Homo sapiens: one gene and its partner. Each later gene encodes a partner of the first gene's protein in a complex. Links are inferred from orthologs where the notes say so. Each region holds a gene or a part of one and is shown in the gene's direction. Other genes may lie near its edges.

Region 1 (3,906 bases):
AACAACAGGGGCCAGAGAGAGCCCTGTGTGTGGAGTATATACTCAGAATCAGCACATTTCAATAAATACATGTACACCTTAATAATACATACATTTGTAGCAAAAAAATGGCTAGGTTATTATAGTACAAGCTTAAAGGGAAAAATTATTGAAAATAACACACATTTTAAAGAATAAAACACACAGCCAGGTGCGGTGGCTTACGCCTGTAATCCCAGCACTTTGGGAGGCTGAGGGGGGCGGATCACCTGAGATCAGGAGTTCAAGACCAGCCTGGGCAACATGGTGAAACCCCATCTCTACTAAAAGTACAAAAATTAGTTGTGGTGGCAGGTGTCTGTAATCCCAGCCACTTGGGAGGCCAAGGCAGGAGAATTGCTTGAACCCAGGAGGCAGAAGTTGCAGTGAGCCAAGATCGCGCCACTGCACTCTAGCCTGGGCAACAGAACAAGACTCCATCTATTAAAAAAAAAAAAAAAAAAAAAAAAAAAAGTCGGGCTCGGTGGCTCACTCCTGTAATCCCAGCACTTTGGGAGGCTGAAGTGGGTGGATCACCTGAGGTCAGGAGTTAGAGACCAGCCTGACCAACATGGAGAAACCCCATCTCTACTAAAAATACAAAATTAGCCAGGTGTGGTGGCACATGCCTGTAATCCCAGCTACTCAGGAGGCTGAGGCAGGAGAATCGCTTGAACCTGGGAGGCAGAAGTTGCAGTGAGCCAAGATCACTCCATTGCACTCCAGCCTGGGCACTAAGAGTGAAACTCTGTCTCAAAAAAAAAAAAAGAATAAGACACACAGTACTGACCTATACAGGCACCCACTCTTATGTCTGCTCTTTATTTTGCCCAGCTTCCAGATAAATTATCATCAGATAAAATCTGCTTCAGATTTACCATGCGGCCTTAAAAGCATCGCATGATACTGAATCCTTGTCTCCAATGTCTTTGACTTTAAGAGCATTTTCCCTTTTCTAATAACAGCTTAATTCACATGTATGTCTGTTGGATATTAGTCTTCATGCTGCCATGTTGAATTTCTTCTAAAAGTCTTCTTCTCTAAAAGTCTTAATGAGCAATACTATCGTATAGAGATTACTTGCTAGTAAAAAGACAGATTTGAGAATCAGACAGATGTGGATTTCCTTTTTTGGCTCTGCCACTTATGAATGCTGTTGTCCTGGGCAAGTTCCTTCTCCTCTCTGGTTTCTGTTTTCTCATCTACAAAAATGGAGGGCAAGCTTCAAGGTTACTGGGATCTCAAGTTGTGTTAGTCTGCTCAGGCTGCCATGACAAAGTACCACAGACTGGGTGGCTTAATCAAGAGAAATGTGTCCTCTCACTGTTCTGGAGGCTGGAAGTCTAAGATCAAAATGTTGCCAGGGTTGGCTTCTTTTCTTCTGAGGCTCCTCTCTGTGGCTTATAAACAGCCATCTTCTCCCTATGTCTTCACATGGTCTTCCCTCTGTACTGTCTGGGTCTAAATTTCCTCTTCCTTTAAGGACACCAGTCATATTGGATTAGGGCCCACACTAATGACCTCATTTAACTTAATTACCTCTTTAAAGACCCTGTCTCCAAATACAGTCACCTTCTGGGGTACTGGGGGTTAGGACTTCAACATAAGAATTTTGTGGGGGACAGAATTCAGCCACAGCACAAGTGTATAGTACCTGACCCACGGCAGGCTTAGTAAGCCTACTTATTGTCTACCTCACCCACATTTAAACTGCACAAACTTTTAATGGGACGCTGTGTGTCTCTGTAGACTCCCAGACACACTAAACCTATTTAAACAGACAACTCAGCATTGTGACAGGCGCACTCTGTCCTTCCTTTATTATCAGGGATGAAGCTGTTTCTTCTCTTTGCCCCAGATTCCGGATGTCATAAATCTTTAAAATGAGTCATCCTTGTGTCTCCTCTCTCCCTCCTGCCCCCACAATCTTCCAGCACTGTGCCAGGGTGCTTTCATCTATATGTGGAAATGTGCTCACCTGCTGATTGTAAACTCAGTCATTGCCTTACTCTTCAAAATTACTGGTCCCAGCGGGCTTCTCTTCCAGCCATTTTTTCCTGATTCTCCATCTCTGGCAGCAGCTGCTGTGCCTTGATTCAGAAGCTGCCCTTGTCATATCTGAGCAAGTATCCCCCAGGGCTTCACGTGACTCTCACATAGCCTTGTCCTCCTCCTCCTCTGCTGTCCGCAGCCCTGGGTGGAGGGCCTGCAGTGGGGAGCTTGTCCTGCATCAGCACCTCAGAGGGGCAGTATTCCCTCATCCCAGTGGCATCCCAGCAACAACCTGTCCCCAGGTACCGTGGCCCTTTCAGCTCACTCTTTCAGCTCTTCTCAGGTCCCGCTCTGAATGTCCCCAGAGAAGCAGCCAGAGGAGCTTGTGTCCCTGGGCAACTGAGCAGCCTCCTGAATGCTCCTTTTGCACTTGTTTTTCTCTTCCAGCTGCAGAGCCCTTGCTCCGTGAGCAAAGCCTGGGTGCCCAAGCAGCCACCGCAGCAGCAGAGTACAACCTGCAGAGAAGCTGATCACCGGGCAGAGATAGAGCGAGCATGTGTGTGTGTGTGCGCGTGTGCAGAGGAGGGAGTGGTGTGCCTGTTTGTGTGTGCATGCATCTGTTGACACTCATGATTCTGAATGTTGCCTGGGCTGGGGGAGTACCTGTAGCACGCCAGTGCTGTTTCCCGGCCTCCAGACACAAGGCTCGAGGTTATGGCAGTGACTTTCAGCTGAGACCTGTTCCTGCAAGCCAGCTGCCTTGTCTGAACAGAACGTAGTGGTAGGACCCTAGCTGGGATTCTGGCATCTGCCTCCCTAGACCTCCTTCCCTCCCTCCTCACGTCAGGCTGTGGAGCAGGAGCACAGCAGTTCTGGCTGTTGTCCAAAGCATGGGATTCTGGAGGCAGCCAGAGCCCTGCTGAGTTCCTGCTTTCTGACCTGGAGGCTGAGCAGGCCGGAGTGGATGGATGCTGTCCAGACGTAGCCACCTGGCCTCTGTTTCTTATTTTAAAATTCTCTGCTACTGGGCTCAGTCCCAGGCCCTTCCTTGGGCTTCTGGGACTGAGCATGAGGCCATAGACAGATCTAAAAAGTTTCCACCACCCTACAGAAGTACACACAGATACCTGACTGGTGTGGGGTATGCCTGGTACTGTAATAGGAGCCTAAGACAGCACACCTACCTTTTCAGGATTTAGAACCTAAAATTAGAAAGAGAATCCCAGCTGTCATTGTTCCTTCCCCAGAAGCTAAGAGCCAGCCTCAGAGCCTACCCAGGAGCTGTGAAGGGGCAAGGGTCAAACTGACTCACTCTACCAGGAGGAGACCAGGTTGCAGTGGCGTAAGGCCCCCTGGTTTCTCTGGCCACACTCCAAGGCACCACAGTGCTGCCAGTGAGGACAGCTGACACCCAGCCAGGGAAACCATTCTAGTCTTTATTCTGTTGGCTTCCAGGGCCTGTCCTGGACTTGTCAGCATCCAGACTGCCATGTCAGCTATCCCAGTAGCTGAGCTCCAAGGACTCAGGCAGAGGGACTCAGGGATGGGGACTGCCAGGGGCAGTTGGCAAAAGTCCAAGTAGAGATTACACCCAGAACACCATTCCTTCCAGGAGCAGTAGGTGGGAGGTTTGACCCAGAGAAGCCAATCCTTGCATTCCAGGAGTGGCCTGTGCCTCCCACCTCTTCCTTCCCACTGCCAAAGGCCTGTGTTGAGAAAGATGTCATGCAAAAGGACGACGGTGGCCAACTAAAGCAAGTCTTCCTTCCACCCTGTGGCCTGCACTTGAGCCACAAAGTGTGTGTGTGTGTGTGCGTGTGTGGTACGTGTGTGTGTGTGTGGCTATGAGGCTGATTCCTGTTTGGATTTTTGTCCTCACGTGTATCATTAAGCTGG
Region 2 (3,906 bases), on another chromosome or scaffold:
GAAAGAAGAAACTGGCTGTGAATCACTGAAAATAGATGAGATTCTGAAGAGTCCTAGAGCCCAAAGCACTTGATAATTTCTAAAAGAATTGATTTCAATATATTTCTACCAGATTTATTGGTGGAAATAAAAAAGGCTACATTTAGGGAGGAAATGTGACATCAGGTAGCAGGCTGAATATGGAGCAAGACCCAGCAAAAGCATGAAGAAGAATCTCGGTAAGGTGTGGATGAGCTGTCTGTTTACTCTTGTTTCCAGAACAATGGAGCTCCCCATTGACGTCAATGGGAGGGAAGAAACAAAAGAGCCTTTGGGTGTGTGCAGGGCGCAGCAGCCGGGCCTGGGTTTGCTTGGCATTTGTGTGTGTATGTGTTAGGGAGAGGGGGCGGGGAGTGTGTCGAGGTGTCAATGTCAGAGGAACAGGAGGAGGGGCCACCTGACTGAGTGTGTGAACAGCATGCAGGCCTCCCGGGGCTTCTGTGGGAAGGGCTGCCCCGATGAACTTGGTATTTGCCCTGGTTTGCATCTGAGAAGTTGCACACACACCTTGTCAAGTAGAAGAGAAGGAGTTATCACACTCAGGAATTCCTGATGTGGGTTCATAACTTTTCCTTCTGTCCCATCCCTGGTCCCCAGGTGAGTCCAGGTAAAGAAGAACAAGAAGAGTAAAGAGAGATGCTGCGGGCTCCAGCTTCTTGGACAGTCTCGCCTTCCCCATGAGAGCCTACACATTCAGAGCCTGCTGCGTGGGAGCCTGAAAGCTCCTTCCTGTCCTGTAAGTCTCAGGCTTCTACCCAGACCCGGGGAAATTGTACTCTTTCTCCTGACACTTTAAATGGAAGTTTAGAGGCTCCACATGCCCCACACAATGCTTACCGAAACAAGGTGATGCAGGGTCCCGCGCTGTCTCCCAGGACAACCTCCTACCCCTGGCTCCTGCGTCTCTACGGCTTGCACCGTTGTAAGGCGTCCCTTTCTCAGGGCCCATCTTACCCGCCTTGGAAGTGCTGCCTTTCTCACGGAGCCTGTGGGGATAGCTCTGGTTAATTTATAGCCCACATCGCCCAATTTAGCATTTGATTAAGTTTCCTTTTTATGAGATAGTCCTTTCTCCCTAGTGATGCGCTTGGGGGCAGGGACAACATCATTTCTTTCTTTTGTACCTCCCCAGAGTAACAATGACTCTATTTCCTGAACCAAAAATTGCAACACGTGGTCTCAAAAATAAGAAAGGTCACTTGGTAGCTGCCGGGACAAGTGTCGACCACAGGCACCTCAGAGGCCCGGGTGGGCGTGCCCCCGGAGCTGCTGCAGGGCGGTGCTGCCACCTTCTCCTGGGCTGCTCCGGGGCCCCGCGATGAATGAGTGAGTGAATGAGTAAATGAATGAATGTGAATGCGTGAATGAAGCATGCCGCGCGGACTTTCCCGCGGCCCTGGCCGCTGGGGGCGCGCCTCTGGCCGGTGGCCGGAGGTGGAGGTCTCCCTCGTCCGGCTTCGGCGCGCCGGGTCTGCCAGGCCGGCCGGAGGTGCGCAGGAGCCCCGCGCCCAGCTCCCCCGCCCGCAATGGTACGCGCCACTCCGCGCTCCCCGAGCTGGCGGGCTTGAGGGCGTAGTGAATGGAAGGCGCCGACGCCGGAAGTGGATGAGACCACTAGGGAGGACGACGGGTAGCACGAACGCGCCGCGTCTCCATTGAGGAACCGACGAGGTGAACATGGAGTTCCATGTGCGTCTTATGTAAAAAGAGCGACGGGCGCGGCCACCAATGGGCGCGCGGCGTTCGTAGGCCCCGCCCCTCATGTATGCAGATGAGACGGAGTCGCGGCCAATGGCGGAGGCCGGGGGCGGGCGCGGCGCGCGCGGTCACGTTTTCCACTATGTGACAGCGGCGACTCGGCCGCGGCGGAGGCGGCGGCGCTGAGGGGATACGTGCAGCTGTGGGCGGCGGCGGCGGGCGCGGGGCCGGGCGGACAGAGCCGCGAGTCGGCGGAGGGACCGGCGGACGGGCTGACGCGGGCGCGGCCGGCGGTAAGTGGCGCGGCGCGGCCCCGCTGCGGCTTACGTAACCGCCGCCGGCGCGCGGGCCTCGGGCAGGTCGGGGTCCCAGCGCCGGCTCGGGCAGCGGAGGCGCCGCCGGAAGTTCCTTGGGCTGCTGGACTCCTCGGCTTGAAACGGCGCCGGCGTGGGGGCGTGTGCCCTTGGCCCTGTCCCAGGTGGAGAGTGGTCGAGCCGCGCGCAGGGTGCGCTCGTTTGAACTGCGGTGACACCGAGGGTTGGGGACTCGAACCCCCGCTTCGCAGCTCAGGAGCCTGAGGTCCGAAAGGTGAGGCAGCGTGTGTAGGGCACCGAGCTACCGAGTGACTGCGCGCGGGCTGCGGTTCCGTGGGCGATTCTCTTTTGGGAACCCTCCCTCCCCTCGCATGGGGAAGGCCAAGGAAACCAAGGGTCAGCGCAGCCGGCCCTGGGATCTGGAGGACCCTCGGGGAGCTGACTGCCTCTTCTGAGGCCACAGGGCTAAGTCCTGGGCTGGGGAAGGGCCATGGAGGGGCGCTGATCTAGGAGCTTTTCCTGGACACCCACGGGTCTCCTGGAATGGGTGATCAGAGGGACAAGGAAGTCCCGGTGCCAAGCCAGGCCTGGGAACCTGAGGGCGGGGAGACCCTCTAATGTTCGCCCCTTTGCCTCCCCTGGACCACCCTGTATTAATTCCCTTTCCCCGGACTGGATAGAAGGGAATGGGGGTGTCCACTCTTTGGTGCAGCAGTCGCGCCTACCTTCTGGGATGTACTTTGGCTGCCAAGTCCCAGACATAGACCAGGGGGTGGGAGGTGGCCTGCTTCCCCCTTCAGGAAGGCCAGGGTAAGGGATGACGAGTTGGTTGCCAGGGTTTCTGTAACCTACACAGAAGGAACCCGTTTGGAAAGCTGATTCATACAGAACAACAGAGCCAGAAGGCACCCTGAAAATCACCCAGAGTAACCCCTCAGCCTGACAGATGAGCAAACTGAGGCCCAGGCCCAGGCTGTCTGCAGGATCTTCCCATCGTCCTGGGGCAGGATGAGCTTCAGAGGTTCAGTGATGGCCTCCACTTGCGTGCTGAATCCTGGGTGGGCTGGAATTTGGGAGGAAGGGCCTTAAGTCCGGGAAATGTGTTAAGAACCCCACACGGTGGCTAAAGCCCCACATGGACGCCTCTCACCTGTATATGGCACAGCAGGACTGCTAGACTTCTTGGCCCACCCTCTACCCCCACCTGGGGCTTCTGGTCCCAGGCTGGGTGTGCCTGAGAAGAAAACAGGACTCTACCTGAAGGCTTTATTTGGAAATTGAGTTTTAAAATACAAGGTGAATTGATTTTTGTGTGCTATATGACTATAATGAAGAAAGGGACTCCGTTTTTTTTGAGTGGAAGCTGTGTGGTGTGCCAGCGCGGGGATGGCACCGTGGGTGTTTGCAGTTATCTGTCACTGTCGCCTTGGTATGATTCATTGGTACAGAACTAACGCAGCCCTGGCTTTCTGTGGAGACTGGAGTGCCAGGTGGGAAGGGGGAGCCCTGTGTCAGCCAGCTGGCTGCTGCTGGCTCCCAGTCTGGGCCTCAGTTTCCTTGTTTGTTTGGAGGGGCTCAGATTGGGCAGTCTCAGAGGTCTACTTTAATTCCCAGGTTTTTGGTTTTCTGTTACCCTACAGATGATTTTTCCCAGGTTTCTCGCAGGAGACAGAGGCTTCTGATATGCTCTTGCCTTTGGGCCAAGTAATGTTCTCCTGTGAGCCACGTCTGCAGTGCTTACAAGGAAAAAGGAAAGATTCCTCTCCTGTGCACTACTTCTCGTACCCACTGAACTTTCTCAAAAATACTGGTAGTCACACTGCTGTTTTTAAGCGATGATGTAACTTCACCAGGA

The links.
Region 2: the proteins of CRY2 (region 1) and PER2 are in contact, whole or in part, in a crystal structure (PDB 4U8H), measured with the Mus musculus proteins. The link is inferred for Homo sapiens from one-to-one orthologs. Residues at the interface, in NP_034093.1 of Mus musculus: Trp58, Ser63, Ser64, Val65, Lys163, Leu166, Thr167, Lys169, Arg170, Glu215, Leu216, Gly217, Phe218, Asn330, Pro331, Ile332, Cys333, Ile334, Gln335, Ile336, Pro337, Asp339, Asn341, Pro342, Glu343, Leu345, Ala346, Lys347, Ala349, Glu350; in NP_035196.2 of Mus musculus: Tyr1132, Leu1134, Gln1135, Asp1136, Pro1137, Trp1139, Leu1140, Met1142, Ala1143, Asn1144, Thr1145, Ile1149, Met1150, Met1151, Thr1152, Tyr1153, Gln1154, Leu1155, Arg1158, Asp1159, Leu1160, Val1163, Leu1164, Asp1167, Gln1168, Lys1170, Leu1171, Leu1174, Gln1175, Ser1177.

Annotation. Positions count from the first base shown.
Region 1 is NC_000011.10:45,878,457-45,882,362, forward strand, and holds part of CRY2 (cryptochrome-2), read left to right. Parts: intron 1-2,457; 3' UTR 2,458-3,906. UniProt on the Homo sapiens protein: Transcriptional repressor which forms a core component of the circadian clock.
Region 2 is NC_000002.12:238,286,768-238,290,673, reverse strand, and holds the start of PER2 (period circadian protein homolog 2), read left to right. Parts: upstream 1-2,063; 5' UTR 2,064-2,325; intron 2,326-2,776; exon of another isoform or gene 2,777-2,805; intron 2,806-3,906. UniProt on the Homo sapiens protein: Transcriptional repressor which forms a core component of the circadian clock.